Homo sapiens: one gene and its partner. The protein of the gene in region 2 binds, or shares a complex with, the protein of the main gene of each other region. Each region holds a gene or a part of one and is shown on either strand. Other genes may lie near its edges. The genes, in order: UPF3B and CASC3.

The links.
Region 1: CASC3 (region 2) and UPF3B share a complex: the UniProt entries of both Homo sapiens proteins name them as parts of the mRNA splicing-dependent exon junction complex.

Annotation. Positions count from the first base shown.
Region 1 is NC_000023.11:119,834,583-119,851,447, forward strand, and holds part of UPF3B (regulator of nonsense transcripts 3B), read right to left. Parts: intron 10,715-16,865; coding exon 10,616-10,714; intron 8,720-10,615; coding exon 8,609-8,719; intron 7,197-8,608; coding exon 7,153-7,196; intron 6,677-7,152; coding exon 6,494-6,676; intron 6,103-6,493; coding exon 6,064-6,102; intron 3,946-6,063; coding exon 3,785-3,945; intron 3,470-3,784; coding exon 3,175-3,469; intron 446-3,174; coding exon 296-445; 3' UTR 1-295. UniProt on the Homo sapiens protein: Involved in nonsense-mediated decay (NMD) of mRNAs containing premature stop codons by associating with the nuclear exon junction complex (EJC) and serving as link between the EJC core and NMD machinery.
Region 2 is NC_000017.11:40,138,417-40,155,281, reverse strand, and holds the start of CASC3 (protein CASC3), read right to left. Parts: upstream 14,746-16,865; 5' UTR 14,734-14,745; coding exon 14,503-14,733; intron 14,076-14,502; coding exon 14,048-14,075; intron 13,713-14,047; coding exon 13,675-13,712; intron 13,229-13,674; exon of another isoform or gene 13,182-13,228; intron 1-13,181. UniProt on the Homo sapiens protein: Required for pre-mRNA splicing as component of the spliceosome. Core component of the splicing-dependent multiprotein exon junction complex (EJC) deposited at splice junctions on mRNAs.

The DNA of each region.
Region 1 (16,865 bases), on a different chromosome or scaffold from region 2:
AAGTCCTCACTTGACAATTCCCCCTGCAAATTGCAATGCATGTCCTTGCCGTCACCTTTTTCTGACACTTTAAAATTAATTTGTAGAAATTGCAAAAGCAATGAAATTGTACTTCCAATTCTGAACCTCTGATCAGATTCCTGCTTTGACACAAGACTTACTCCTCTGCAGTGTACCCCACCAGCACAGCGGCTCCCTTTCTCTCTATTCTTTGCCCTGAAGGCACCTCTGGATTGCTTAACGTGTGCTCTTTGGCTGCCTAGACAGTCAGGACACCTAAGGCCATCTGGACTTATCACTCCTCTCCTCCTTCTTTTCTATGGCTAATACCACTTTCCTGCTTCCTTTCTGCTGCTGAATCTCCAGACTTGGTGCTGTCATCAGGGGGACAGAGTCGATTTCGGCTTCGAGCTCCTGGTTGGTAAAGCTGCATCGCTGGACGATCCTGAAGTACAATAAAATATGTTACCATTACAACAATGCTACTAAGCTTTTATATGGGATTTTTAAGAGTCATAGTTATGTATGAATATATGCTCAAGTGAAGTCATTTAAGACCAAAAATGTGAGGGCACGGTAAATGACAACTTGCCTACTTCCTCTCTCCATCTCCAAAGAAAAGCAACCATTTGGTAATTACTATTTTATATGCTTGGGTAAATTTTTTTTTGGAGATAGGGCCTCACCCTGTCACCCAGGCTGAAGAGCAAGTGGGATGATCAAGGCTTATTGCAGCCTCGACATTCCAGACTCAAACGATCCTCCCACCTCAGGTACCTAGTAACTGGGATTATAGGCACGCACTACCACACTGGGCTGTTTTTACATTGTTAGTACAAACAAGCTCTCCCTATGTTGCCCAGGCTGCTTTCCAACTCTTGGGCTTAAGTGATCCTCCTGACTTGGCCTCCCAAATTGTTGGGATTACAGGCATGAGCCATCATGCCAGGCCCTAAGTGCCAGTTTTAAAGGAAGCACAGAAGACAGAGGAACACGTTAAATAACAGCATGGGGATGTAATCTGCCAATTCAGAACAGGAAAAGCCCTACAAGACAAATTGGTTTCTGCAACAAATGGTAGGAAAACAAGAGAAGGGGAAATTGTTTAGATTAAAAGAAAACTTGGCTGGGTGCAGTGGCTCATACCTTTATTCCCAATACTTTGAGGGGATCGGCTGAGCTCAAAAGTTTGAGACCAGCCTGAGCAACATAGGGAGACCTCATCTCTACAAAAAAACTTAAAAATTAGCTGGGCATGGTGATGCATGCCTGTAGTCCCAGCTACTCTGGAGGCTGAGGTAGGGGGATGGCTTAAGCCCAGGAGGTCGAGGCTACAGTGAGCTGAGATTGTACCACGGCACTCCAGCCTGGGTGACATAGCAAGACTCTGTCTCAAAAAATAAACTAAAAACAAAAGAGAACTGAAGAAGACATTTCAAGGAAGCATAATTTGTGGAATTTGTTTAGGTCCTATTAAAAAAAAGACATTAGGCTGGGCACGGTGGCTCATGCCTGTAATCCCAGCACTTTGGGAGGCTGAGGCGGGAGGATCACCTGAGGTCAGGAGTTCGAGACCAGCCTGGCCAACATGGTGAAACCCTGTCTCTACTAAAAATACAAAAATTAGCCGGGCATGGTGGCTTGAGGCTGTAGTCTCAGCTATTCGGGAGGCTGAGGCAGGAGAATCACTTGAACCCGGGAGGTGGAGGTTGTGGTGAGCTGAGATCATGCCACTGCACTCCAGCCTAGATGACAGAGCGAGACTCCATCGCAAAAAATAAATAATTAATTAATTTTAAAAAGACATTAATGAAGCAATTGGGAACATATGAACACTGAATAGACAGGACGTTAAGGAATTATTGTTAGTTTTTTTTGGTGTGAAAATGCTACTAGGGTAATATTAATAGAGTATTTATCTCATATACTGAAGTATTTAAGGAAGAAATTATGTGCAGGGTTTGTTTGAAAATAATCTAGTAGGGGTAGGGATGAAGTAGAATAGAAAGAAGGTTGGCTATGAACTGCTGGGTGATGGGTACAGTACATGGAGTTCATCATACTATTCGATTTTTTTTTTTTTTTTGAGACAGAGTCTCGCTCTGTTGCCCGTGCTGGAGTGCAGTGACGCGATCTCGGCTCACTGCAAGCTCCGCCTCCCAGGTTCACGCCATTTTCCTGCCTCAGCCTCCCGAGTAGCTGGGACTACAGGCGCCCGCCACCACGCCTGGCTAATTTTTTGTATTTTTAGTAGAGATGGGGTTTCACCATGTTAGCCAGGATGGTCTTGATCTCCTGACCTCGTGATCCACCCGTCTTGGCCTCCCAAAGTGCTGGGATTACAGGCGTGAGCCACCGCGCCCGGCCAGTTTTTTTTTTGAGACTGAGTCTCGCTCTGTTGCCCAGGCTAGAATACAATGGCGTGATCTCGGCTCACCTCAACCTCCACCTCCCAGGTTCAAGTGATTCTTCTGCCTCAGCCTCCCGAGTAGCTGAGATTACAGGTGTGCGCCACCACATCCAGCCGATTTTTTGTATTTTTAGTAGAGACGGGGTTTCACCATGTTGGCCAGGCTGGTCTAGAACTCCTAGGCTCTAGCAATCCACCCACCTCAGCCTCCCAAAGTGCTAGGATTACAGGTGTGAGCCACTGCACCTGGCCCATCATACTATTCTCTATTCTACTTTTGTGTATGTTTACAATTTCTATAGTAAGTTAATAAAAGCCCAGCCAAGACTGAAATAAAAGTTGGTCAGGCGTGGTGGCTCACGCCTGTAATCCCAGCACTTTGGGAGGCTGAGGCAGGTGGATCACGAGGTCAGGAGATCAAGACCATCCTGGCTAACACGGTGAAACCCTGTCTCTACTAAAAATACAAAAAAATAAGTCAGGCGTGGTGGTGGGCGCCTGTAGTCCCAGCTACTTGGGAGGCTGAAGCAGAAGAATGGCGTGAACCCAGGAGGCGGAGCTTGCAGTGAGCCGAGATTGTGCCACTGCACTCCAGCCTGGGCAACATAGTCAGACTCTGTCTCAAAAAAAAAAAAAAAAAAAAGTTGCAGATGATTAAAGTTCCCCTTTAAAAATTCTATAATAACAGTGCCCTTTACACTTTCTTTACACTTGCAGGAAAAGGGAAAAAAACCCTCATAAACAAGTTTAATGACAAGCAGCACCTTGTTTCTTATTCGATCTCTCTTGACCACTTCTTCTTTCTTTTCAGTTTTTTCTGAGCTGCCTATTGATTCTGTACTTTCAGCCTTCTTTCCTTTATCCCGAAGTGTGTCTTTCTCTTTTTTCATTTCTTCTTCTTTTCTCTTAAAAGTCTTCTCTTTCTCATAGCGCTCCTTCTGCCTACGGCGCTCTTCTTCTTGCCGCTTCAGCCTCTCTCTTTCTCGAAGTATGCGCTCCTGATCTCGTTCATATTCCCGTTCCCTCTCCCTATAGTCTCTGCCGCTCTCATCTTCAGGTCTGCATGAAAAACAAATCTGAGACAGAACCCTGAAAGATCTTGTAATCACAAATGCAGGAACACTGTGATTCTGATTTGGCCCCTGCAATGAGGTTGCACTTTTAGAGCAGAGTGAAAAATACTAGTGTTTTAAGAAGGAACAAAACCCCAAAACCATTCACCCAGATTAAGATACAAGAATATTCTGAAACTGTTCCTCCTCATCCCCCTGCCCTGCATAAAACAGCTTATCTTAATTCAGGTACATGTCCAGGACATAGCAGCAAAACTAGCATGTATAAATCAAACATAACAAAGAGTCCTTGACTACTGACCTCTTTGGTTTTTCATCTTTAAGTTCGCTATCAGAACGCTTGGGCAATGTACAACTTTGCCCACTGGCTCTTTCATCACTGAGATTCTCTTTGTCCAATTTCTTGGCTTTTTCTCTTTTGTCCAATTCTTTTTCATCTCCTTTTTCTGGCTTCTTGAGCAGCTTTAAAGATAAAATGTTTATTTTTATTTTGAAGGCTGGGACACTATCTTCTATTAAAAACCCAGTATACCAAATATTTAAAATTTAGACTAGACAAAGCCCCCTATCTCTGCAGGTACACTTAATCTTTCAGGTGAACAACTAGTGCATAAGAGTAGTAATTTACTAAAAGGATGCTATTAATGTTAAAGTGTTATCCACTTGAACGAAGTGGTTTAATCACTTTGTGGCAATAGGATCAAGACTCCTTTGGCTTTTATTCTGAGGCAGGGTCTCACTACTCTGTTGCCCATGCTGGAGTGCAGTGGCATGAACATGGCTCACCGCAACCTTGACCTCCTGGGCTTAAGTGGTCCTCCTGCCTCAGCCTCTTGAGTAGCTAGGACAACAGATGCACACCACCACATATGGCTAATTTTTTAATTTTTTTGTAGAGACAAGGTCTCATCATGTCACCCAGGCTGTTCTCAAACTTCTGGGCTCACACCATCCTTCTGCCTCGGCCTCCCACAGTGCTGAGATTACAGGTGTGAGCCACTGTGCCCGGCTTCCTTTGGCTTTAAATGGGTCAACCTTTAAGTGAACCAATGCATACTTCAAAGTATGCTTCTGTAGCAAACCAGCATGTTGATATAACTTAATGGGAAACAGCCCACAAATTTTAAGTGATAGGCAGATCGTTTCTGTTGGGACTGTTTTTATGTAGTACTTGGAATGACAAATACCTTGGTCACCAAAGGAGAGATCCATTGCAGGAATAATTTTGCCTTGAGCCTGAGAATAACATACTTATGATGGTACAATTATCTTGCCATTAGAGATTAATAACAAGAATTATTTGGCATTTGATTTAAAAATCTAAAGGCCTTATACAACCAAATAGTGAAGTTCCATCTCTACTGAGTAGGAACTCTGTATTTAATGCCATATTTACGCATGTTCAAAAATGCCATTGTTTTTTACATTGCTGCTATGAATCTCTCGAGAATACCTCCAAGTGTCGGATAATCAGAGAGATTCTTAGGCAAAATAGAAGAATTTCAAGTCTCAGAGTGAAGGTATCACACAAGGTTCATCTCAGGGTGAAGGCATCATGTAAATTACTAAGCAAAAGGCAAAGCACCACAAGACATAAGCACAAAGCATTTTGGCACACAGACAGCCACTGCAAATGGTGAGTCCAAAATGGACACTGAGAAGGCACCAGTGTAAAATGAGGATACCATGTGCAGGTTTCATTGGAAGTGCTCTTATTTCTCCAATGAACATCCTTATTAGAAACCAAGGTGTTCATTACTCTAATAAGAACATTAATGAATGTCTCTAGCATGGCTGGCTCTACCTTCTGCCTTGCTGATTGTTAGGAATAGCAAGTCAAGTCACTTGTGGCATAGCAGACAGAGAGATTGCTGGAAAGAATTAAGATGAGAAACTCCATCCTCCCCCAAGCCCCTCATCATCAGTAATGAGCCCCGTAGAGACTTAGGGAACCCTTGCTACATAAACTGCTGAGTTTTCAGGAAATAAAATAAGGAGACCCTGCCACCCTCTCTGTGAGATTTTCTTTGACTTTATCTGAAGTGCTAGGTACTAGTACTTCCCCAGGAAATATGTTGAAACAAGGGCTGCCCAAGCCATGCCCTTAGAAGGGAAGTGGCAAGGTTGGGATCTTTCTGCAGGTTTTCTTCTTCCCAAATGCAATGCATGAATCCGAATCTGCTGCTCACAGATTCCCAGATATATGCAGGAAGATACTACGGGAGTCATGTGAGAGGGAAAGGCACATATTGCAGGGTATTTATCCCTAGTCCTCCCACAAGGCAGCCAGTTATGAGAAGCATATAAGAAGATGAGAAAGAACTATATAGGCATGGTTGTCCTCTGGCTGTAGGTCAATGAAGCTTCTGGGCACACAGCAGAGCATCAGGAAGTCACCTGGGCTTCCTTTTAAAGTAGAAATTTATAATAAAATAGCTCAGCTTTTAAGAAGACTCAAGTCAACCTGAAGGGGTTTTCAACAAGTAACACTACCACCACCACCACCAAAAGGACTTATTAGCTAAGACCTGTGTGTGTGACATGATACTAGATGCTCTGTATCATGTACTTGGTCCTTACATTTTTCTGATTCACAGCTTGTAACAGAAACCTGTGTACCTGAAGACAGTGGAAAACAAACAGATGAGGTAACTTCATGTATCAATTATGAAGAAAAAGCTGAAAAAAAACCATAAATCATGCCAGCCAGCCCTAAGCCCTCATTTACTATGAATTTAGAGGACAATAGTCTAAAAATCCAACATTTTCAATGACAAAAACAGCACAGATCTGCACTGAAGAAATAACATACTACTTTATCCTTTTAAATGATCTTAAATTTAAAAACTAATACTATTACAGGAAAGATTTTTATTGGATCACTTCCCCCCAAAAGAGAACAAAAACAAAACAAAAAATTCATTTACACCAACACAAGACGCATGCATATTTAAAGAAGTAGATACGTGCAATTTTTAGCAACATGCAGTCAGTTTCAACATTCTTATACCTTAATCTTTGGTTCATCCTTTAATTTGTCCCTTTCTGGAATTCTGTCTATCTTCTTTAGCTTTTCTATATCTTTCCTTTTTCGTTTCTCTTCTTCTTTCCATTTCCTCCTCTCTTCTTCTCTTTGTCTTTTTCTTTCTATTTCTCTCCTCCTCCTTTCTTCTCTCTTTTCTTCTCTCATTCTCTAGAAAGAAACATCAACACAAGCCTTCAAATAAAATAATCATCACCAAAACCCTAATAAATCCTGAAGTCATGGTAGGCCCCAACTGAATAATCTTTCCTTCCTACTTTCTACAAAGTGGCATTCTACCACCGTTATCCCCACTCCACCCAGAAAACGAAAGACAATGAAGACCAGAACCTGCTAATATTATTCTTCCACTGCTGCCTTACTATCTCTCCAGAGGCTTTCAGAATATCAAATGAGTGTCTCTGGGACAACCTAAGAACATTCCACGTTTGTAGAGTGAACTCCTGGTCCAACAACCAGAGTGAAGGAGCAGGCTAGAGAGTGAGACCAAGAAGGCAAATCCTTAAAGAGTAATGGTGGAAAAAGCAGCTATTTCTCCTCTAGAAACCCAATGCTCTTAAAATGTTTATAGAATGCAAAGCAAAGAAATTAAAGTATTGAGAGAACTATAAAGACAAAAGATTTACCTGCTTGTTTTTCAGGAAGCTCAAAAGTGGGGTTGTCTTTTTAGCTACATAAATGTAAACAGATTATTAATCATACTTATCAACCCCTAGAAACGATTCCATTTTCTGACATTCCCTGCCAACCACCCAAGGTGGGAAAACATGTACACCCCTTATGCAGAAAGATCACAATTGTAATATCAGAAAGAAGTTTTACAGCATTCGATTTCAACAATACGGGATTAAAATACCTTTTAAAAAGTAAAGAAATTCAAATTAAAACAACAAAATAATTTATTAAAAGAGTCATTCCCAACTGATGAGAATTAAGTACTTAGGACATTCTCTTGTTTTACTGATAGGAGTGTAAACTTGTTCAACTGGAAGAAGTTGGGGGGAAGGGGCTAAAAATATCTAATCCTTTTGACCCCATAATTCCACTTCTGGGAATTTATTCTAAGAAAGTTACCAGAAATAGGCTTGTACTATCCATCTATTAATAAAAGTCAAGTTTTGGAAGAATATTTTTCATTTTCAACATTCTGAATAAGCTATTGGCCTTACAGCCATCTTAAAACACATATTCCTGGCCGGGCACAGTGGCTCATGCCTGTAATCCCAGCACTTTCAGAGGCCAAGGCAGGCGGATCACTTGAGGTCAGGAGTTCGAGATCAGCCTGGCCAACATGGTGAAACCCCGGCTCTACTAAAAATACAAAATTGGCCGGGCGTGGTGGCGGACACCTGTACTTCCAGCTACTCGGGAGACTGCGGCAGAATCGCCTGAACCCAGGAGGCGGAAGTTGCAGTGAGCCGAGATTGCGACACTGCACTCCAGCCTGGGCGACAGAGCAAGACTCCATCTCTCACACACACACACACACACACACATACACACACACACACACACACACACAGAGAGAGAGCGAGCGAGCAAGCAAGCAAAAAAAACAAACAAACAAACAAAAAAACCCCACATATTCCTTAGGATAAATTCCTGAGTAGAAATCCTGGGTCAAAGATTATGCTCATGTTTAGAGCTACTGATACAGTAGTGACAGCCTATTACTGAGAACCAAGATCCAAGCTAGAATTCCTCAAGTAGTTTTCAATTTTGCAGTAACTAATTTCATTTTTTCGTATTTTCAAGTCAAAATTTTTTTAGGAATATGAACTTATTACTAGAAAATACCAATTGACCTTCAAAGGCTTACCACTGTCTAAACATTCCTTATCAGTCATCGAACTTTTTGTATTTATATTACATTTGTGTGAAACTAAATAGGTCAAAGAATTTTTCCCACTTTAATGGATTCTCATAATGCTGTGAGGCAGGTATTACCATCTGCAATTTACAGTAACAGTCTCAGAGAAACTAGTAACTTCCCTGAAGTCACACAGCTAGCAACTGATGGAGGTAGGAGACTTAGGTACTGTGATGAAAAGACTGTTGCCCTGATTCTTTTTGCCCACTTACCTATTAATTCTCTATTTTTTGCTTCTATTTCCTCTAGCAGTGTCTCTGGAGTAGATGTCATTTTCTCATTATCTGTGGCATAACTTTCCAAAAACTTTCTATATTCTGGATCTAAATAATCATTTGAGGAAACAGAAAATATAATAGACTTTAAACAAAAAAAGAAGACATTATCTACAATACTGATTTATCAAAGAAGATAATTTTTTACTTCGTGGAAGATTAAAAAAAACCAAACCATACCCACAAGGTAGACTATTTAGAGCTTAATTGGTCACTTGCTCTCAGGACTCCTATCACTGATACTCACTATAGGAATCTGGTATAACATGGGGTCAGGAAAAATGAGACGCCATGCATTATAACAGAACCACTAGGGGTATTACATAGTTTGCTTTTAAAAGTCACTGTCCTACTAAACTAAGTTAGGTGTTCCAAAAAGATAAATTAGAGAGAAGTCCTAGATGTGGCACTTGAGGTGATGGGAATTCCTGGAGTTCTCTCCTAGACCTCTAACATCAGAAAGGGTGACACATCTAAGCCATTATATTGCTTGTTTCTATGTGTCACTTGATCAAGTCTTCCAGATCTAAATCTGTAATAAAACCAGTATCACAGCTATGTGTTATTGAGTCCTTACCGTGTTTTCTTTATAAAATACCTGTAATAGTAACAAATGATGGAAATTAAACTAGATGATTCTAAAGTAACAATCTGATATAAAATATGGTCCTAGTCCTTATCCAACATAAAGAGTTGTGTAACAGCTATCTAACATAACATTACAGAGGTCTCAAAATCTGGAGCCAGTGTACCTTAAATGGCAATTATTTTGGTTTTTCAGTTCTTGTATTTCTTTCTTTCTTTCTTTTTTTTTGAGACGGAGTTTTGCTTTTGTTGTCCAGGCTGGAGTGCAATGGTGCGGTCTCAGCTCACTGCAACCTCCGCCTCCCGGGTTCAAGTGATTCTTCTGCCTCAGCTTCCCAAGCAGCTGGGATTACAGGTGCCCGCCACCATGCCTAGCTAATTTTTGTGTTTTTAGTAGAGATGGGGTGTCACCATGTTGGCCAGGCTGGTCTCGAACTCCTGACCTCAGCAACTCTGCCCGCCTTGGCCTCCCAAAGTGCTGGGATTATAGGAGTGAGCCACCGCGCCTGGCCTCAGTTCTTCTATTCCTGTTCAACCTAATACTATGTGTGTAGCTAATTGTATATCCAAAGACCAGAAAATAGGAGTGACAACTTCAGCTACTTTATACAAAGTTACCTGGGTATGGAAATTTTCCCATGACAGTTCAAACCTTCTTCTTTATAAATATAATGGAAACCAAAAGTCAAATAAATAATCATAAAAATGGTGAGGCCTCAAGAAGCACCTGTTAAACTTTGAAACCTGATTTTTTTCCACTATTTTCTTTTTCTTTTTTTTTTGAGATGGAGTTTCGCTCTTGTTGCCCAGGCTGGAGTGCAATGGTGTGATCTCAGCTCACTGCAACCTCCGCCTCCTGGGTTCAAGAGATTCTCCTGCCTCAGCCTCCCGAATAGCTGGGATTACAGGCATGCACCACCATACCCGGCTAATTTTATATTTTTAGTAGAGACAGGGTTTCTCCATGTTGGTCAGGCTGGTATCAAACTCCTGACCTCAGATGATCCGCCCGCCTTGGCCTCCCAAAGTACTGGGATTATAGGCGTGAGCCACCACGCCTGGCCTTTCCACTATCTTCTAATCAATAAACCTATGGTGATTTGTTACTCAATAGTCAACATTATATTGTTCAATGGTTGAAGAATGAAATGCCCTAGCCAAAGAGAGCAGAGATTCTGTGCAAGAAACTCTCTCTAGTCTAACAATTAAGCAAAGCTTCCATCGGCAAATAACATTTCTCACTTACTTTATTTTGTATATTTTCTAATTTAAAATTTTGGGGTCGAATTAACTCTCACAAAGATATTATTTTTAAAAACCCCACAGCAATAGCATTATATAATTAGAGCTATACTGTACCATCATCGATAGTCCCGACTTTGGTATCTCTTTTCTTAGTCTTCTTTTTTGCAGCTTTTTGAAAAGGTGCAAATTCTACTATAGCGGGATATTCCTGACCTGTTTAGAAAAAAAATACCACACTTGCTATAACAAAGAAAATGTCAAAAGTGGATATAAGGGAATCAACCCATTGCTTTCTATGACTCTTTTGATGGCAGTCATCTGAAGAGGGTCTCCCAAAGGCATAAAGCACACTGGCACAACCATAATCAACATACTACAAAAGGAGCCACAAATTCACACTGATAACATAGTGAAACAACACGGCATGAAAGTAAAATATTCATATAAATTCAACTTATAAAATGTGATATTTTAATGTGAAAAAGACCCTACAAACTATTTTTCATTTTAAAATGTTAGAAATCTCCAAAATAGGCAAATCTATAGAGACAGAACGTAGAGTAGTAGCTGCCTGGAGTTTGGGGTAGAAGTGGTGAGAAGAATGAGGAGTGACAACTAATGGGTGGGGTTTCTCTTAGGGGTGATGAACATGTTCTAAATTTAGATTGTGGTGATAGGCTCATAAGCCTATGAATATACTAAAATTCACTGAACTGTATACTTTAAAAGGGTGACTATTTCAGGCATGTGAATTATATCTCAATAAAGCTGTTATTTTTTAAAAGTGTAACTATTTGAGGTGATGTGTTATGTGAGGTGATGAATGTGTTAACTTGATTGTATATATTTCATAATGTATATATGTATACATTATGTATACATTTCATAATGTATATATGTATACAATATGTATACATTTCATAATGTATACATTTCATAATGTATACATATATAAAATTATCACGTTGGGCTGGGCACCGTGGCTTATGCCTATAATCCCAGCATTTTGGGAGGCCGAGATGAGAGGATCACCTGAGGTCAGAAGTTTGAGACCTGCCTGGCCAACATGGTGAAACACTGTCTCTACTAAAAATACAAAAATTAGCTGGGCGTGGTGGCACGTGCCTGCAATCCCAGCTACTCTGGAGGCTGAGGCATGAGAATCACTTGAACCCAGGAGGCAGAGATTGCAGTGAGCCGAGATCATGCCACTGCACTCCAGCCTGGGCGACAGAGTAAGACTCCGTCTCAAAAAAATAAATACATAAAAATAAAAATAAATAAAAATACAAAAATTAGCCAGGCGTGATAGTGCACGCCTGTAATCCCAGCTACTTGGGAGACTGAGGCAGGAGAATCACTTGAACCTGGGAGGCGGAGGTTGCAGTAAGCTGAGATTGTGCCACTGCACTCGAGCCTGGTAAAAAAAAAAAAAAAAAAAGAAAAAGAAAAAAGAAAAAACAATTATTACATAGTAAAATTTAAATATATATTATTTTATTTGTCAATTATAGCTCAATAAAGCTGGGGAAAAATCTGTTAACACTTAAAAAAAAATACACCAGGACACCAAAAGCACAGGCAACAAAAGTAAAAATACAGAGGGTAGATCTCATGTTAAGTGTTCTTACCACAATAAAACAAAAATATAAAGTATATCTCTTATTTAAAAAAAGTAAAAAATAGATAAATTGGACTACGTCAAAATTAGAAACTTCTATGCATCAAAAGACACAATCAACAGAGTGAAAAGGCAACCCATGGAATGGGAGAAATATTTGCAAATTATATTATCTGATAAGGGGTAATATCGAGAATATATAAAGAACTCCTATAACTCAACAACAAAAAACCAAATAACCCAATTTAAAAAATGGTCAAAAGACTTGAATAGACATTTCTTCAAAGATAATATACAAATGGCTAACAAGCATATGGAAATATGTTCCACATTACTAGTCATTAGGGAAATGCAAATCAAAACCACAATGAGGTATCATCTCACGCCTATTAGGAGGACTACTATCAAAAAGCAGAAAATAACAAGTGTTGGCAAAGATGTGGAGAAACTGGAACACTCATGTATTGGTGGGAATGTAAAATGATGCAGCTGCATGGAAAACAGTATGGCAGTTCCATAAAACATTAAAAATAGAATTATTGGGCCAGCCTGACTAACATGGTAAAACCCCATCTCTACTAAAAATACAAAAATTAGCTGGGTGTGGTGGTGGGCACCTGTAATCCCAGCTACTCAGGAGGCTGAGGCAGGAGAATTGCTTGAACCCAGGAGGTGGAGGTTGCAATGAGGGAAGATCGCGCCATTGTACTTACTCCAGCCTGGGCAATGAGGGCGAAATTCCATCTCAAAAAAACAAAACAAAACAAAAAAGAACTACCGGCGGGGCACAGTGGCTCACACCTGTAACCTCAGCACTTTGAGAGGCCGAGGTGGGCGCATCACTTGAGGTCAGGAGTTTGAGACCAGCCTGGCCAACATGGTGAAACTCCGTCTCTACCACAAACATAAAAAATTAGCAGGGTGTGGTGGCAGGTGTCTGTAATCCCAGATACTTGGGAGGCTGAGGCAGGAGAATTGCTTGCACCTGGGAGGTGGAGGTTGCAGTGAGCCAAGATCATGCCACTGCACTCCAGCCTGTGTGACAGAGACTCTGTCTCAAAATAAATAAATAATAAAATAAAAATAGAATTACCAAATGACTCCAGAAATTCCATTTCTCGGTATATATCCAAAAGCAGTGAGAACAAGGACTCGAATATGTGCACATCTGTGTTCATAACAATATTGTTCACAATAGCCAAGAGTGGAAGCAACTCGAATACCCCTTGACAGATGAATGGATACACAAAATGTGGTATATACATATACTGGAATATTAGTCTTAAAAATGAGGCTGGGGGCAGTGGCTCATGCCTGTAATTCCTAGCATTTTGGGAGGCTGAGGCAGGCATGTCACTTCAGGTCAGGAGTTTGAAACTAGCCTGGCCAACACAGTGAAACCCCATCTTTACCAAAAGTACAAAAAAATTAGCCAGCTGTGGTGGTGGGTACCTGTAATCCCAGCTACTTGGGAGGCTGAGGCTGGAGAATTGCTTGAACCCAGGAAGCGGAGGTTGCAGTGAGCTGAGATCGCGCCACTGCATTCCAGCCTGGGCAACAAAGTGAGACTCCATCTCAAAAAAAAAAAAAAAAAAAAAAAAGATGAAAATTCTGACACATGCTACGACATGGATACACCTTGAAGATATTATGCTAAATGAAATAAGCCAGACAGACACTGTATGTTTCCACCTATATGTGGTACCTACAGTAGTGAAACTCATACAGACACAAGGTATAATGGTGGTTGCCAGGGGCTGGAGGAAGGGAAATAAGGAGTTGTTTAATGGGTAAAGAGTTTCAGTTTTTCAAGATGAAAAAGTTCCCAAGATTGTTGCACAACAGTGTGAATATACCTTAATGCTACTGAACTGTACACTTAAAATGGTTAAGATGGTAAATTTTATGTTACGTGTATTTTTACAATTTTTAAAAATGCAAAAGGAATGAGGTAATGATATATGTTATATGTTACAACATGGATGGACCTTGAAAACATTGTGCTAGGTAAAAGAAGCCAGTCAGAAAAGACCACATATTGTATGATTACATTTATATGAAATGGAGGGAAATCATAGATACATAAAGTAGATTAGTGGTTGCCAGGGGCTGGAGGGAGAGAATGGGAGGTAACTACTAATAGATATGGGTTTCTTTTTGGAGGGATGAAAACATTCTGGAATTAGTACTGATGGTTGTACTACCTTGTGAATATACCAGAAACCACTGAATTGTACGCTTTAAGAGGATGAATTTTATTATAGGTGAGTTATATTTCAATACAAAAACCCCAAGTGACTAATGGGAAAAAAATTCACAAGCACCCTGTCACAGAATGTCAAAAACAAGGTATCCTATCCTTAAATCATTGGCATGTAGACATAAGCAGAAAAATAAAAATAAACAGAATTGACCAGAAGGCACTGCAAAGCAGTCATGGAGGAAAAATTATGTTGGGAATCCCAGTGAGTAGAGAATCAGATTAGCTTCAAAACTGTGATATATTAGGCCAGGCATGGTGGCTCACGCCTGTAATCCCAGCACTTTGGGAGGCTGAGGCGGGTGGATTGCTTGAGGCCAGGAGTTTGAGACCAGCCTGGCCAACATGGTGAAACCCCATCTCCTAAAATTACAAAAATTAGCTGGGCGTGGCGGCACACACCTGTAATCCCAGCTAAGTCGGCAGGCTGAGGAACGAGAATTGCTTGAACCCAGGAGGCGGAGGTTGTAATGAGCCAAGATTGTGCCACTGTACTCCAGCCTGGGCGACAGAGTTAAGACTCTGTCTCAAAAAAAAAAAGAGAGAGAGAGAGAAGAAAAAGAAAAAAAACAAAAATAAAAACCAAAAAACAAAACTGTGATATATTTGAGAAGGAATAGATAAACCAGACTGAAACAGAGGGAAATTGTGGAAGACAGGCTGAAGAAACAGAAGTGAGGCCAGAATATGGAGGACCCTGACTACCAGGCTAAGGAGTTTGGACTTTTTCCCCCAACTGTTAATTTAAATCATTATTTTCAAAAAGATTAATTTCATGGCAATATAATAGACTGAATTATACAAGAATGAAAAAAATGGAAAATCCTGTAAGTTTAGAGACAGTGGTTGTCTAGGCATTAAGTGATGAGGACATAAAGTGTGACTGTTTAAGGCTAGGTGAACAAGATATTAAAAAAAAACAATAAAATCCAGCCTGGGCAACATAAGCAGACCTTGTCTCTAAGATTTAAAAACAAAACAAAACAAACAAACAAACAAAAAACACAATGAGGAAAGGATAGTCTCTTTAATAAGTGGTGTTGAGCTGGGTATGGTGGCTCGCACCTGTAATCCCAGCACTTTGGGAGGCTGAGGTGGGGGGGGGGAAATCACTTGAGCCCAGGAGTTCAAGACCAGCCTGGGCAACGTAGTGAGACCCCATCTCTATAAAAAATTTAAAGAAAATTAGCCAGGCATGGTGACATACATCTGTAGTCCCAGCTACTCAGGAGGCTGAGGTGGGAGGATTGCTTGAGTCCAGGAATTCCAGGCTGCAGTGAGCTCTGATTGCGCCACAGCACTCCAGCCTGGGTGGAGACCCTATCTCAAAAGATAAACAATAAATTGACAAGATTCATAACTTACATGTAAGAGATTTTTAAAAAAGGAAAAAATTAAACACAACTCAGATTTCCAGGCTAAGTAACTAGAATCTAGTTAAATATCTACTGGAATAAAATAGTTGGAGTGGAAAAATAGCTGGCTTGGGGAGATTAATAAAAGTTGGACAAACAGTGGCAATCCTTCAATTTTTACTGGCATAGTCCCTGACAAAAATTTAATTTTTACCAACTTTGAAGTAATATTGAAAAAAACAAAACAAAACAAGAAGACACACTATTTACCTATAATTGCAAACCAAAAAGAAAAGTGGCAAATGGCAGCTTAGATATTCTCTGGCTAAATGTAGGTAGCAGATAATAGAGTGTTAAAGTAGAAATGTGTCTTCCCTATAGACTGGACCTTTCTGGATATAAAGTAAGAGATGTATCAAGTTTCTTTTTTTCGATTTTGAGACAGAGTCTCGCTCTGTCGCCAGGCTGGAGTGCAGTGGCGTGATCTCAGCTCACTGCAACCTCTGCCTCCCAGGTTCAAGCGATTCTTCTGCCTCAGCCTCCCAAGTAGCTGGGATTACAGGCGTGGACCGCCACGCCTGGCTAATTTTTTTAGCATTTTTAGTAGAGATGGGGTTTCACCACGTTGGCCAGGCTGGTCTCGATCTCCTGACCTCGTGATCCACCTGCCTCGGCATCCCAAAGTGCTGGGATAACAGGCGTGAGCCACCACACCAGGCCGAGATGTATCAAGTTTCATGTTTTAATTATATACAACTTTGTGAGAATGTTAAACAGTATCCCAATTGGGAACTGTTGGCTTAATGGATTTGAATTAAATAAATGTTTGTCCTCGAAGCAAAATAAGAAGTAAATATTTAAAACTTATCAAACAAGTTTAAGAGTCACTTATCAGTACTGCGGCTGAAATTCTACAGTCAAAACAGCAGGTTTAAGCCAGGGCAAAAAATGTGTCACACGAGGAGAAAACAGTTGCAATTTCACTCAGTTGATCAAACTAAAAAAATAGTAGGTTAATAAAAATAACCAAGGACTGTGAAAAGTCACGTCTATTTATAAGACTGCAATAAGCTTATTAAATGTGTAAAACTCTAGGAAGCAACGCAATGCACGAGTTGTCTTAAACAT
Region 2 (16,865 bases):
CCATCTCAAAAAAACAAAACAAAACAAAATAAAACCTTACGTATAAACACCCGAGTCATGGACCAAAATCGTCACGTGCAAAAGAATGAAGTTGGCCAGGCGCAGTGGCTCATGCCTGTAATCCCAGCATTTTGGGAGGCCAAGATGGGTAGATCACGAGGTCAGGAGATCGAGATCATCCTGGCTAACACGGTGAAACCCCATCTCTACTAAAAATACAAAAAATCAGCTGGGCGTGGTGGCGGGTGCCTGTAGTCCCAGCTACTCGGGAGGCTGAGGCAGGAGAATGGCATGAACCCGGGAGGCAGAGCTTGCAGTGAACCTAGATAGCGCCACTGCACTCCAGCCTGGGTGAAAGAGCGAGACTCCATCTCAAAAAACAAAAAGAATGAAGTTAGACCCTTACTTTACCCCACATATAAAAACTAACTCAAAATGAATCAAAGACCTAAATTTAAGAGTTGAAACTATAAAACTCTTAGAAGAAAACACAGGAGTAAATACTCATGACTCTCAGTTTGGCAAATGACTCTTAGATACCTAACACCAAAAGCATCTGCAACAAAAGGAAAAACATAAACCAGGCTTCATCAAAACTAAAACCTTTGTCCTTGAAAGAACACTATAAAGAAAGTGAACAATCCACAGAAAGGGAACACATATTTGCAAATCATATCTGATAAGGGACTTACATCTAGAATACAGAATATATAGAGAACTCTTACATCTCAATTAAAAAAAAAAAAATGGCCAAGCGCAGTGGCTCACACCTGTAATCCCAGCACTTTGGGAGGCTGAGGTGGGCAGATCACCTGAGGTCAGGAGTTCAAGACCAGCCTGGCCAACATGGCAAAACCTCGTCTCTACTAAAAATACAAAAATTAGCCGGGCATGGCAGCGCACACCTGTAATCCCAGCTACTTTGGGCAAAGATCAAGTGTGGTGGCTGATGCCTATAGTCTCAACTACTGAGGAGGCTGAGGTGGGAAGACTGCTTGCTTGAGCCCAGGAGTTTGAGACCACTCTGGATAATACAGCAAGACCTTGTCTCTAAAAAAAATAAAAACAATAATTAAAAATTAATTTTTAAAAAATTGCCTAGGTATCTGAATAGTCATTTCTTCAAGGAAGATACACAAATGGCCAATAAGCACCAAAAAAAAAAAAAAAAAAAAACGCTCAGCATCATTAGTCATCAGGGAAATGCAAATCAGAATGAGAAAACATCTCATACCTAATAGGACATCTAGAATCAAATCGGCTCACTGCAACCTCTACCTCCCGGGTTCAAGTGATTCTTATGCCTCAGCCACCTGAATAGCTGGGATTACAGGCGCGTGCCACAGTGGCTGGCTAATTTTTGCATTTTTAGCAGAGACGAGGTTTCGCCATGTTAGCAAGGCTGGTCTGGAACTCCTGATCTCAAGTGATCCGTCTGACTCGGCCTCCCAAAGTGCTGGGATTATAGGCGTGAGCCACCGTGCCCCGCCAAAAAAAAAAAGTTTTAGACAGGTCTATGTTGCCCAAGCTGGTCTCGAACTCCTGGGCCCAAGAAATCCTACTGCCACAGCCTCCTGAGTAGCTGAGAGTACAGGCATGCACCTGGGTAAATAACACAACAAGTGCTGTTAAGGATATAGAGAAACTGGAACCCTCATACACTGCTGCTAGTCACGTAAAATGGTGCAGCACCTTGGAAACAGTATGGCGGTTCTAGTTCCTCAAATGATTACAGAGTTACCACATGACTCAGCAATTCCATTCCTAGGTACATAGTCAAAAAGAAGTGAAAACATATGTCCCCATAAAAACATGTACACTAATGTTTGTAGCAGAATTATTCATAATAACCAAAAGATGGAAATAAGCTATGGAAATAACTCGTGTCTGTTGTTGGGTGAATGGATAAAGAAAATGTGGAACACACGAACAATGGAATCTAATTCTGCCCTAAAAAAAAAATTTTGACATTTGTGACAACAAATGGATGAACCTAGACGGAACTATGCTAAGTAAAATAAGCTAGACACAGAAAGATAACCACCACATGATCTCAAGTCAAACTCATAGAAACAGAGAGTAGGAAGGGGGTTTCTAGGGCTTAAGGGTAGCGAAAATGAGATCGTGGTAAAAGGATATAAAACTTCAGTTATAAGTTCTGGAGACCTAATGTACAGCATGGTAACCATAGTTAATAATAACTTACTGGTTGGGCGTGGTGGCTCACACCTGTAATCCCAGCACTTTGGGAGGCCGAGGTGGGCAGATCATGAGGTCAGGAGTTCGAGACCAGCCTGGGCAACATGGTGAAACCCTGTCTCTACTAAAAATAAAAAAATTAGCCGGGCGTGGTGGTGGGCGCTTGTAATCCCAACTACTCAGGAGGCTGAGGCAGAAGAATTGCTTGAACCTGGGAGGCAGAGACTGCAGTGAGCCGAGATTGTAACACTGCACTCCAGCCTGGGCTACAGAGCAAGACTGTCTAAAATAATAATAATAATAGCGTACTGTATACTTGGTCAGGCATGGTGGCTCATGCCTGTAATCCTAATACTTTGGGAAGCTGAGGCTGGAGGATTGCTTGAAGCTGAGTTCAAGACCAGCCTGGGCAATACAGCGATTCTTTGCCTCTACAAAAAATTTGTTTAAAAATTAGCTGGGCGGCTGGGCATGGTGGCTCACGCCTGTAATCCCAGCACTTTGAGAGGCTGAGTGGGTGGATCACCTGAGGTCGGGAGCTCGAGACCAGCCTGACCAACATGGAGAAACTCCACCTCTACTAAAAATACAAAACTAGCTGGGCTTGGTGGCGCATGACTGTAATCTCAGCTACTTGGGAGGCTTAGGCAGGAGAACCGCTTGAACCCAGGAGGCAGAGGCTGCAGTGAGCTGAGATCATGCCACTGCACTCCAGCCTGGGCAACAAGAGTGAAACTCCGTCTCAAAAAAAAAATAAAAATAAAAACAAATAAATAAATTAGCTGGGCATGGTAGTGCACGCCTGTAGTCCCAGCTATTGAGGAGGCTGAGGTGGGAGGATTGCTTAAGCCCAGGAGTTTGAGGTTGCAGTGAGCTATAACTGCATCACTGAACTCCAGCTTGGGTGACAAAGGTTCTGTCTCTTTTTAAACCATGTAAAATAAAAATAAATAACATATTGTAAACTTGAAATGTGCTGAGAGTAGCTCTTCGGTGTTCTCATCACACACATACAAAAAGGTTAACTAGGTGAGGTGATAGATACGTTAATTAGCTTAACTGTGGTACTCCACAATGTACACATATATCAAGATGCCACACTGTATGTGTTAAATGTATACAATTTTTATTTGTGAGTTATACCTCAATAAAGCTGGGGTGGGGAGGCAGAAAGAAGGAATGAAGTACTGATACATGCTACAAGTCAGATGAAAACATTATACTGAAAGAGGCCAGACACATAAATCTACATATTACATAATTCCATTCATATGAAAGGCCAGAATAGGAAAATCAACAGAGACAGAAAGTAGATTTGCGGTTGCTTGAGGCTACGGGAAGGATGGGAGAACTGGGTTTCTTCCTTCCTTTTTTTTTTTTTTTTTTTTGAGATGAAGGTCTCACTCTGTTACTCAAGCTGGAGTGCAGTGGTATGATCACAGCTCCCTGCAGCCTTGACCTCCTGGGCTCAAACAATTCTCCTGCCTCAGCTTGCCAAGTAGCTGGGACTACAGGTGCACGCCACCACGCCTGGCTAAATTTTTTATTTTTTATAGAGATAAGGTCTTACGGGCCAGGCGTGGTGACTTACGCCTGTAATCCCAGCACTTTGGGAAGCTGAGGTGGGTAGATCACTTGAGACTGGGAGTTTGAGACCAGCCTGGCCAAAATGACAAAATTCCATCTCTACTAAAAATACTAAAAATTAGGCAGGCATATGGCACATACCTGTAACCTCAGCTATCCGGGAGGCTGACGAACGAGAATCACTTGAACCCCAGAGGGTCAAGTTGCAGTGAACCAAGATTGTGCCACTGCACTCCAGACTGGGTGACAGAGCAAGACTCTGTCTCAAAAACAAACACACAAACAAATAAAAAGAGATGAGGTCTCACTATGTTGCCCAGGCTGGTCTCGAACTCCTGGGCCGACCATTCCTCCTGCCTCAGCCTCCTGAGTAGCTGAGTACAGGCACGCACCTGGCTAAATTATGCACTTTATAAATAAATGAACTGTACGTTCTGTGAATTGTATCTCAATAAAGCAGTTTTTTTTCTTTTTTTCTTTTTTGAGAGGGAGTCTCACTCTGTCGCCCAGGCTGGAGTGCAGTGGCGTGATCTCGGCTCACTGCAAGCTCCACCTCCCGGGTTCACACCATTCTCCTGCCTCAGCCTCCCGAGTGGCTGGGACTACAGGTGCCCGCCACCACATCTGGCTAAGTTTTTTGTATTTTTAGTAGAGACGGGGTTTCACCGTGTTAGCCAGGATGATCTCGATCTCCTGACCTCGTGATCTGCCTGCCTTAGCCTCCCAAAGTGCTGGGATAAAGGCATGAGCCTCGGCGCCTTGCCACAATAAAGCAGTTTTTTAAAAAAATGCCTCTTATTCCTAGTTGTTTCCTTACTGTCTCGTCTCTAATTTTTCAATGCATCCATTCCCTTGATGCTTCTAACTTCTGCCTATCAGTCCTTTCTCACATTCACTTTCTTCTCTCTCTAGACTCCATAGCTCATTCATTTCAATCACTACTAGTAACATCCCATTTCTCTTGCCACTCCCATATGCCTGGAACTGGATCAATTCAAATGTCTGCTTTCTCCAGGCCTACAACAGACTACTCCATTGCCAAAGGGGGTTACACACACACACACACACACACACACACACGCACACACTCTTACTTTTTGAAGCAGATGTCATTCTTTTGTTTTTTTCGAGAGTCTCACACTGTTACCCAGGGTGGAGTGCAGTGGTGCAATCATAGCTTGCTGTGGCCTCGACCTCCTGGGCTCAAGGGATCCTCCCACTCCAAGCTCCCAAGTAGCTGGGACATAAGCACACATCACTGCGCCAGGTTGATTTTTTGTAGAGAGAGGGTCTCACTTTGTTGCCCAGATTGGTCTCAAATTCCTGGGCTCAAGCAATCCTCCTGCCTTGGCCTCCCAAAGTGCTTGGATTACAGGTGTGAGCCACCGTGCCTGTCCTGCTCTATCCTTCTATTTCACAAAAACAAAACACAGAAAGGAACGCTAACTTCCTTTCCTTCCCACTTCTTTGTAATTACAATGGAAGATACTTCTCATCTGGTTCCTACATCTTCTCATGTACTTAGTCAAGAATACCAGTACTTAATATTATTATCTATTCCCTCTTTTTTTTCCCTTTTTTTTGAGACGGAGTCTCGCTCTGTCGCCCAGGCTCAAGTGCCCGCCACCATGCCCGGCTAATTTTTTGTATTTTTAGTAGAGACGGGGTTTCACCATGTTAGCCAGGATGGTCTCGATCTCCTGACCTCGTGATCTGCCCGCCTCGGCCTCCCAAAGTGCCGGGATTACAGGCGTGAGCCACCGCACCCAGCTTTTCCCTCCTTTCTAATCTTCCTTTGCACATACCTTTCCTTCCCACTTCTCTGTAATTACAATGGAAGATGTTAATCTTGTCTGGTTCCTACTTTTTCTCATATACTCAGTCAAAAATACCAGTACTCAATATCATTATCTATTCCCTCTCTTTTTTCCCCCTTTCTTTTCTTTTTTTCAATCTTTGACCTTATTTGATACTCTCCTAACTTTTTAAAAAACATCCAAATCACCTCTTGATCTCAAAGCTACCTCTCCAACTACCATCTCTTCAGCCTTCCCTCAGTCAAATTTCTTTAACAAGTTTTTTTGGCCAGGCACAGTGGCATGAACCTATTGTCTCAGCTATTCAAGAGGCTGATGAGGATTGTAAGTTCAAGTTCAAGCTCAGCTTGGGCAAAATAAGGAGACCCATTTGCCAAAAAAAAAAAAAAAAGAATTCTTGGAAGACTCTCAGAAAATGGCAGTGGCACAGTTTTATCTCTCTTCAAATCTCCACATGGAATGAGAGCTCTGGACAGCAAAACCGAGACCCAAACCAAAACCCTGGCCAGACACAGTGGCTCACGTCCATAATCCCAACACTTTGGGAAGCCGAGGTGGGTGGATCACCTGAGACCAGGAGTTCGAGACCAGCCTGGCCAACATGGTAAAACCGCGTCTCTACTAAAAATGCAAAAATTAGCCAGGCATGGTGGCACGCACCTGTAATCCCAGCTACGCAGGAGGCTGAGGCACAAGAATAGCTTGAATCTGGAAGGCAAAGCCACTGCACTCCAGCCTGGGCGACAGCAAGACTCTGTCTCAAAAAATAAAAAAGAAACCAAAACCTTCAGACAACACTGCAACAAAGTTAAGTTACCAGGTATCCCCCAAGACCCAAAATGTAAGTGCATAACAAAGCACCAACAGCTGTAGGACCTGTATAGTACTGGTGTCCACGCAGGAGAAAGCAGAGAGAAAGCAAATGGACCTGAGAACAGGAGAACACTGAAATAATCAACAGGCAGTCAAGGGAAAGCACAACAGTCAAAACTGAGAACAGCACTTACAACTAGCAAGGGGGCCACACACGGTGGCTCATGCCTGTAATCCCATCACTTTGGGAGGCCAAGGTGGGTGGATCATCTGAGTCAGGAGTTCGAGACCAGCCTGGAAAACATGGTGAAACCTCATCTCTACTAAAAATACAAAAATTAGCTGGGCACGGTGACACACGAGGTCCCAGCTACTCAGGAGGCTAAGGCAGGAGAATCGCTTGAACCCAGGAGACGGAGATTGCAGTTAGCTGAGATTGCGCCACTGCACTCCAGTCTGGGCGACAGAGTGAGACTCTGTCTTAAAAAAAAAAAAGGTCTGAAGGGATGAAGCTGACCTGGCTGCCAGGGCTTCCTTCTGGGGACAGGGCCCTACACTGTCCCTAGAAGGGAGTTCCTAGAAGAGAAACTGTTGAGAGCAGGACCAAATTCAGTAGGACAGGGATGGTCCAGAACAAGCTGGGAAAGGGAACAAAAGCAACAAATCTCAGAAAGCAAGCCACCATATTTCTCACCACCACAGAAAAACAACAGAAGCAGCTCTGTGAAGTTAGAAAAAGCTATTCTAAATCATGCTTCCTTCGAAAAGACCAGGAAAACTAATTTTACATAAAAATGAACAGAAAATACAGAAGTTAAATCCCATAAAGTTATAATAAGAAAAAATAATAGCATTCCTACAGACAATGAAAGCATGCCAGAAAGACATCCGCATATCATATCAAAATTGCAACTTCTATTTCAAAATAAGCTAAAAAGACATTAAGAAAATTATATAAGGCATGAAAGAACATCAATCAGAATTGGAAAAACTCAAAAATGAAATGAGAACTCAGAAAGGTATGAGCAATTAGGAATCAAAAACTATTTACCAGGTATCACCACCTAAAAGTCCCACACCTTCTCGATCTCAAAACATCCAAAACCTAACCCACAACTGTCCTTCCAGAACTCTTCTCCTGGGGTCCCTTCCTTAACAGTTAACACCATTCAACACCATTCATCAACCTGCACATTCCTTTGACTCCTTTTTCTTTTTCTGAGTCAGGGTCTCACTTTGTTGTCCAGGCTGGAGTGCTGTGGAGTGATCACAGCTCTACTGCTTTGACCTCCCTGGGCTTAGATGATCCTCCTGCCTGAACCTCCTCAGTAGCTGGGACCACAGGCCTGCGCCACCAAGACCGGATAATTTTTTTTTCTACTTTTCTTTTGTAGAGACAGGATTTTTCCATGTTGCCCAGGTGGGTCTCAGGCTCCTGGGCTCAAGCAATCCACCTGCCTCAGCCTCCCAAAATGCTGTGATTACAGGCATGAGCCAAGGTACCTGGCCTCCTTTGACTCCTTAATTTAGGTTCCACATTCAATCAATGAAGGGGTTGTTAGTACACTAGAATCTCTCTCTAATCTGTCCCACATCTTGCCATTCCAACAAGTATGAACCTTCTTTAGGGGCACCATCGTCATGCTCCTTGGACTATCCTAACAACCTCTAAACAGCTCTTCTGCCTCTAGTCTTCCTTTGTGCCTCACCCACAATTCATCCCCCACATTTAAGCCTTCAGTGGTACTTCTTTCCTAGCCATTAGGAAAACATCCAAACTCCCTTACATATAGAATGGTAAGCTGCTATAAATTCACAATCCCCAAAACTCAATGAACACTCCATATTGCCTGTCAGTTTCTCCAACGTTTCCATTCTCTAGTGACTACAGACGGTCCCTGATGTATGATGGTTCAACTTATAATTTTGACTTTATGGTGGTATGAAAGCCATAAACATTCAGTAGAAACTGTACTTCTCAGCTGGGTGCAGTGGCTCACCACACATGTAATCCCAGCACTTTGGGAGGCCAAGGTGGGAGGATCCCTTGAGTCCAGTTCAAGATCAGCCTGGGCAACACAGAGTGACCTCATCTCTATTAAAAATATTTTTAAAAAAATAAAAAAGAGGCCAGGCACTGTGGCTCATGCCTGTAATCCCAGCACTTTGGGAGGCCGAGGCAGGCGGATCACCAGGTCAAGAGTTCAAGACCAGCCTGTCCAACATGATGAAACCCCGTCTCTACTAAAAATACAAAAAAAATCAGCCAGGCATGGTGGCGTGCGCCTGTAATCCCAGCTACTTGGGAGGCTGAGGCACGAGAATCGCTTGAACCCGGGAGGCAGAGGTTGCAGTGAGCTGAGATCACGCCACTGCAGACAGAGTGAGACAGAGTGAGACTCTGTCTTAAAAAAAGAAAAAAAAAAAAAAAAAGAAATCGTACTTCTCGAGATGCTGGATAGCAACAGAGAGTTGCTGCTCCAAGTTAGCCAAGAAGTTATCTTGAACTTCTGAACTTATGATGGGTTTACCAGGATGGGATGTAACTACACCATAAATCAAAAAGCATCTGTACTGCAGCAAATATTCCCCATCCCAAAACCACTTCTAACTCTGAATTCTGTCCACTTCTATTTTCACTATCACCACTCTATTCCATGCCACACTCACTACTTAACTAGATTCCTACAATAGCTTTCTTAACTAGCTTTTCTGTCTCTGATCTTGTTTCTCTTCACTGTGGACAAAATAACTGCTATAAAAGAATCCTCAAATTTTACAGTACATAGCATCAACCTGGGATATTCTTTAATACATAAATGTCTGAGTCTCCAATGCCCCTCCCAAGAGTCTGTTTCAGTAGAGAATGGCTAATTGGATTTTCTGATGCAAGTGTTCTCTGGATCTGAAAAACACATCTTTAAAATTTAAATCAGACAAAGCATAGTGGCTCATGCTTGTAATCCCAGCACTTTGAAAAACCAAGACCGGCAGATCACTTGAGGTCAGGAGTTCGAGACCAGCCTTGCCAACATGGTGAAACCCCATCTCTACTAAAAATTAAAAAAACAAACAAACAAAAAACAGTAAATAAAAATTTTTAAAAAATGAATAAATAAATCCAATCGCATCACTTTTTTTTTTTGACACAGGGTCTTGCTCTGTTGCCCAGGCTGGAGTACAGTGATACAATCTTGATTCACTGCAACCTTCACTTCCCAGGCTCAAGCAATCCTCCCACCTCACCAATTAGTGGCCCCTGCTCACCAATTTGTCTTTATTTCTAATACCTATCCTGTCCCAACAATGCTCCAGTCACACCTAATTACTCCCAAGTTCCCAAACGCTCTCTATCTTCTCTATCTGGGCTTTTTCTCTTTTTAAAAAAATTTTGGGCCAGGCGCAGTAGCTCACGCCTGTAATCCCAGCACTTTGGGAGGCCGAGGTGGGTGGATCACGACGTCAAGAGATGGAGACCATCCTGGCCAACATGGTGGAACCCCGTCTCTACTAAAAATACAAAAATTAGCTGAGCGTGGTGGTGCACACCTGTAGTCCCAGCTACTCGGGAGGCTGAGGCAGGAGAAATCACTTGAACCAGGCGGGGCGGAGGCTGCAGTGAGCCGAGATTGCACCACCGCACTCCAGCCTGGCAACGGAATGAGACTCCGTCTTAAAAAACAAAACAAAACAAAACAAAAAAAATGGGGGGCACGGTGGCTCATGCCTGTAATCCCAGCACCTTGGGAGGCCGAGGTGGGTGGGTCACCTGAGGTCAGGAGTTCGAGACCAGCTTGACCAACATGGTGAAACCCCATCTCTACTAAAAACACAAAAATTAGGCGGGCGTGGTGGCATGCGCCTATAATCCCAGCTACTCGGGAGGCTGAGGCAGGAGAATCGCTTGAACCCAGGAGGCAGAGGTTGCAGTGAGCTGAGATCGAGCCATTGCACTCCAGCCTGGGTAACAGAGCAATACTCCATCTCAATAAAAAAAAAAAAAACTTAATTTTTTTTTTTTTTTGGCTGGGTATGGTGGCTCATGCTTGTAATCTCAGCACTTCAGGAGGTCAAGGCAGGAGGACTGGTTGAACCCAGCAGTTTGAGGTTGCAGTGAGCTGTGACCCCACAACTGCACTCCAGCCTGGGTGACTGGGCAACAGAGTGAGACCCTGCCTCTTTTTTAAAAAAAAAAAAAAAAAAAAAAGAGGGCTGGGCACAGTGGCTCACACCCGTAATCCACCTGTAATCCCGGTACTTTGGGAAGCTGAGGCGGACGGATCACCTGAGTTCACGAGTTCATGACCAGCCTGGCCAACATGGTAAAACCCCGTCTCTACTACAAATACAAAAATTAGCTGGGTGTGGTGGTGTGCACCTGTAATCCCAGCTACTTGGGAAGCTGAGACAGGAGAATCGCTTGAACCCGGGAGGTGGAGGTTGCAGCGAGCTAAGATCATGCCACTGCACTCTTGCCTGGGTTACAGAGCAAGACTCCATCTCAAGCAAAAAAAAAAAAAGAAAAAGAAAGTTTTTAATTTTTGTTGAGTACACAGTAGGTATATATTTATGTAGTACATGAGTTTTGTTTTTGTTTTTGTTTTTTGAGACAGAGTTTCCCTCTTGTTGCCCAGGATGAAGTGCAATGGCACAATCTTGGCTCACTGCAACCTCCACCTCCTGGGTTCAAGTGATTCTCCTGCCTCAGCCTCCTGAGTCGCTGGGATTACAGGCACCTGCCACCACGCCTACTTAATTTTTCTTATTTTCAGTAGAGACTGAAAATGGGTTTCGCCATGTTGGCCAGGCTAGTCTCGAACTCCTGACCGCAGGTGATTCACCCGCCTCGGCCTCCCAAAGTGCTGGGATTACAGGTGTGAGCCACCAAGCCCGGCCCATGAGATATTTTTATATAGATATACAATGTGTAATAATCATGTAAGGGTAAATGGGGTATGGATCGCCTCAAGCATTTATCCTTTGTTACAAACAATTCAATTACGTTCTTTTATTAATATATATATATACTTTTTTTTTGAGATGGAGTCTTGCCCTGTCACCAGGCTGGAGTGCAGTGGCTTGATTTCGGCTCACTGCAACCTCTGCCTCCCGGATTCAAGCGATTCTCCTGCCTCAGCCTCCTGAGTAGCTGGGACTACAGGGGCGTGCAAGCACGCCCAGCTAATTTTTGTATTTTTAGTAGAGACGAGATTTCACCATGTTGGCCAGGATGGTCTCAATCTCTTGACCTTGTTATCCACCCACCTCAGCCTCCCGAAGTGCTGGGATTACAGGCATGAGCCACTGTGCCCAGCCAATAGTTATTTTTAAATGTACAATAAGTTACTGGTTGACTGTAGTCACCATGTTGCAAATATGAAATTCTAGATCTTAGTCATTTTTATTTTTTAAATTTTCTGAGACAAGAGTCTTGCTCTGTTGCCCAGGCTGGAGTACAGTGGTGTGATTATGGCTCACTGCCACCTCCACCTCCCAGGCTCAAGGGATTCTCCTGCCTCAGCCACTTGAGTAGCTGGAATTACAGGCATGCGGGACCATGAGCTGCTAATTTTTGTATTTTTAGTAGAGATGGAGTTTTGCCATGTTGGCCAGGCTGGTCTTGACCTCCTAGCCTCAAGTGACTGGCCCACCTTGGCCTCCCACAGTGCTGGGATTACAGGTGTGAGCCATCGCGCTGGGTTTAGATCTTATTCATTCTAATTACTATTCTTTTTGTACCCCTACAGCCTTTCTTTTATTTATTTATTTTTTTTTTTTTGAGACAGAGTCTCACTCTGTCACCCAGGTAGCAGTGCAGTGGCATGATTTCAGCTCACTGCCACCTCCATCTCCTGGGATCAAACGATTTTCGTGTCTCAGCCTCCCAAGTAGCTGCGATTACAGGCATGCATCACCACACCAAGCTAATTTTTGTATTTTTTAGTAGAGATGGGTTTTTTTTTTTGAGACGGAGTCTTGCTCTGTCACCCAGGCTGGAGTGCAGTGGCACAATCTCAGCTCACTGCAAGCTCCGCCTCCCGGATTCACACCATTTTCCTGCCTCAGCCTCCCGAGTAGCTGGGACTACAGGCGCCCGCCACCACGCCCAGCTAATTTATTATTATTTTTTTTTGTATTTTTAGTAGGGACGGGGTTTCACCATGTTAGCCAGGACGGTTTCGATCTCCTGACCTCGTGATCCGCCCGCCTGGGCCTCACAAAGTGCTGGGATTATAGGCGTGAGCCACCGCGCCGGGCCAGAGATGGAGTTTCACCATTTTGGCCACGTTGGTCTCAAACTCCTGGCCTCAAGTGATCCGTCTGCCTCAGCCTTCCAAAGTGCTGGGATTACAGGCGTGAGCCACTGCTCCCGGCCCCTGTGGGCTTTCTTGACTGTTGTTCTCTCTGCCTAGAACACATCTTACCCAGCCAACTGTTTAATCTTTCCCGACTGCCTAAGATGGATTCAGTACCCAGCTGTAACACCCTACTTAGCCCTATCCCAGTGCTATCCCCTATCAGCAAGTGGTACAATTGCTTGAATGTTTGTCTGACTTCCTTATTGAGTTGTAAGATCTCTAAAGATAGGAATTTTGTTATAGTGTTCACTATTCCATCCTCAAGGGCTTAACAGATTCTAAAATGTAGTAACAGTTCTAAAAATGTATAGACAAAATCTTTGATCCACCATCCAATTCCCCCTATATATAATCCCATTACCAGAACTCAGGAGTCCACTCAACAACCCAGGAAACAAACACTTACTCTGATGGCATCTCTAGTAGTTTATCCAAAAGACAGGAAACTTTCTCCTAAAAACAGAAAAATCCCCACCTATAAAATGATGGATGCTCTTGGCACAAAACATTCCGAATCCTACCCTTTCAAAGTCTTCAGATAGATTTGGAAAAAAATAACCAATTGGCTGGCTTCTCAACCTACACTGCATAAAACAAACTGTCAAACATCTTTCAGAGGACTTCAAGATATCCTCACTCTCTTATTTAGAACCTCATATTCTTCAGACAGGAAGAGAAGCCAACTAACAGTATAACACCTGTGGCTTGAGACGGCGTGCCCCAAGTTTTCCCTAGGTCTAAAGTGAACAAGACCTTCTGTAACACTTTTTCAGAAGCATAAATGAAGAATACACAAGAGGATAAACACGGAGGTCATGGTACGTTTGCAACGAAGGTGTGTACACGTTTTTAAAAAGCATTTCTGATCTATACCATAGGAAAAAACCTGTCATACTCACTTCCGAGTCTTCTGCACTTTCATAATCCGAGAGAACAGCTGAAATAAAACAGAAATATGTGGAAAAAAAGAAACCCAGAAACATTTTTTGGCTGCTTATTACAGGTCAGACTAAGAGTCTCATTTAATTCTGACATCAACCTACAACGTGGATAAAATTATAGTCCCCACTTACAAAAGGAGAAACAGGCTCAGAGGGTAACTTGCTGAAGACTATACTGCTAAAGCCTATGCTCTTAACCACTATGTTACAAAAAGGCACTCTGTGGCCCTAAATCCGTGACAGTGTGTGAGAATGTCGATGTTGGAAATAGATGACCTGAGTTTATGTTAAAAAAAACTCTTGTCCTAATGGGGTAAAAGATGCTACTCACCATCACCTTCAATGCCATCTTCACTCTCCTGAAAGAAAGCAGAAGACATGGGTTAGTTCTGTGATTTCCAGAGGTGGGGAGCCCAATAAAGAAATGTGGGTGAAAAGCTGAAGATTCAGCACAAAATGGTTGGAGAGGGAGACAGAGATAGGTAAATCTTTATCAAGTAGTAGCCAAGGCAGGTCTGGTCTCCTTCCCTCCAGCCCCGACTTCTGAATAAAACATCCGCTTTCCATCTCCAGCGGCTCTACCATCCTCCCAGAAACCCCCAATCCTTCTTCTTCCCTTGGAACTCCGGATGCAAACTCGCATTGGGATAACTCCCCTTTTCTCTCAAAAACAAAAAAAAGTCCCAGTATCTACTATCAACTCACAGACTACCTAGCATCACCTACACCCCGCCCCCGGCCGGCTCGCCGCCCGGTCCCCACCCCGCCCCGCCTGCGCGCACTCACACACTCCGACTCCTCAGCACTCTTGGCGCCCCCGCTCTCCACCCGCCGCAGATGAAGGGCCCCGGTTCGGCCTCCGCGCTGTGAAGGCAGAGAGCCGCTGCCGCCGCCTCCGGCGCTACCGCTGCAGCTCCCGCCTCCCCGCAACGGGGAGCCGCCGCTGTCGGAGCCCGAAGCACCAGATTCCTCGTCCTCGGTGTCTTGCGAAGCGCGCTGCCGCCGCCGGTCCGCCATCTTACGGAGAACGGCCACCACCGGCGAGGTACTTACGCACCGCGCCCGTCGCAGAGGCTGCTGGGAGGCTGGATAGCTAGTCCCGGCGTGCTACGCGTGCGGCGCTCGGCCATCCCGCTGTGTGTGTGTGTGTGTGTGTGTGTGTGTGTGTGTGTGTGTGTGTGTGTGTGTGTGTTGGGGTGTGTGTGTGTGTGTTGGGGTGTGTGTGTGTGTGTGTGTGTGTGTGTGTGTTGGGGGAGGGGCGGGGCACTGGGCGGGGCCTAGGCCTGCGGCACGTTTGCGGCCGACCCGGATTACGTCTATCGGTGATGTAAGGGGGCGTGGCGCGGCTCCTGACTTCCCTTGGGCAGGCCTAGGGCGAGGGGAATTGAGACTTCAGCAGCCTCCCGGGTTCCTGGCCCGGCCATCTTGGGCTTCCCGAGTGGAAGGAGTCAACCTGTCACAGCTTCACTGCAACACTAGGGCTGTTTCATGGTTTTCTGTTTCCATTTCTCACTTCTACCTACGTTTGAAGCAGGTCAATTTACTGCATTCCTTTGCTTGGTAAAATCACGAATCAAGGTAAATCTTAAAAGCTGTAGTGCTGCGTCAGATTTGCTGCACCAGCCTTGTTTAAGATAACGGGCGAAGGAGAAACCAGTTGTCTGCAGTGAAGCCAGAGGACTTCTTGTTGCAGCGTTTTCTCTGTGTTCTCATTTCCTCTTCACGTTTCTTCCCACCCCAGCCATCACCTGTCCCAAAGTGCAGGCTGGTATGATGCCAGTATTACCGGTTTTGTTTTGGCTTTTTCGAGGCAGGGTCTCACTCTGTTGCCCAGGCTGGAGTGCAGTAGCGCGGCTCACTGCAGCCTTGACCTCCCAGGCACAGGTGACCTCCTTGCCTTAGCTTCCTTAGTAGTTGGGACAACGGGCACACACTACCACACCCGGCTAATTTTTCTGTTTTTTGTAGAGATGGGGTCTCGCTCTTGCCCAGGCTTGTCTCCTGGCTGGGATCAAGCGATCCTTTCGTCTCAGCCTCCCAAAGTGCTGGGACTACAGGCATGAGCTACTGCCCTTGTCAGGATTTTAGAACCTATTTAAAAATAAATGGTCAGTAGAAACAGATGTTGATTCAAAATCCTGACATTATTTCCTTCTTAAGGTTTATGGAAATTATTTCATTTTGGCAAGGCATTGGCCACCATTGAAAAGAATCAGTGTGTTTTCTTTGGACCATTATAAGGATATACAAAGTGCATGAGCTAAGTTTTTAGTGCACCTACAGGAGTGCACGTTAATAATGTATGTTATCAAACAAAGGCCACCATGGCATAGAATTCTTCCCTGAGTAAAATATTTTTTTTTTTTTTGAGAGGGAGTCTCACTCTGTCTGTCGCCCAGGCTGGGGTGCAGTGGGGTGATCTCGGCCCACTGAAAGCTCCGTCTCCCGGGTTCACGCCATTCTCCTGCCTCAGCCTCCCGAGTAGCTGGGACTACAGGTGTCTGCCGCCAGGCCCGACTAACTTTTTATGTTTTTAGTAGAGATGAGGTTTCACCGTGTTAGCCAGGATGGTCTCGATCTCCTGACCTCGTGATCCGCCGTTCTTGGCCTCCCAAAGTGCTGGGATTACAGGCGTGAGCCACCGCGCCCGGCCTTTCCTGAGTAAAATTTTTATAAATGACATGGTTAAGGATCCTGATGTTTATCAAATTTATAGATAACATGAAACTGGAAGTAATTATGAATGCCTTCAGAGATGAAAGGAAAATTCAAGGCCGGGCGCGGTGGCTCACGCCTGTAATCCTAGCACTTTGGGAGGCCGAGGCGGGCAGATCACGAGGTCAGGAGATCAAGACCATCCTGGCTAACACGGTGAAACCCCGTCTCTACTAAAAATAAAAAAAAATAGACGGGCGTGGTGGCAGGCGCCTGTAGTCCCAGCTATTCGGGAGGCTGAGGCAGAATGGCGTGAACCCGGTAGGCGGAGCTTGCAGTGAGCCGAGATCGCGCCACTGCACTCCAGCCTGGGAGACAAAGAGATTCTGTTTCAAAAAAAAGAAAAAAAGAAAATTCAAACAATCTCAGCTAATTAGACAAGTGGCCAAACGTGACAACTTATAAGTCCAGCTCCAAAAGCCAACTGCCTGAGT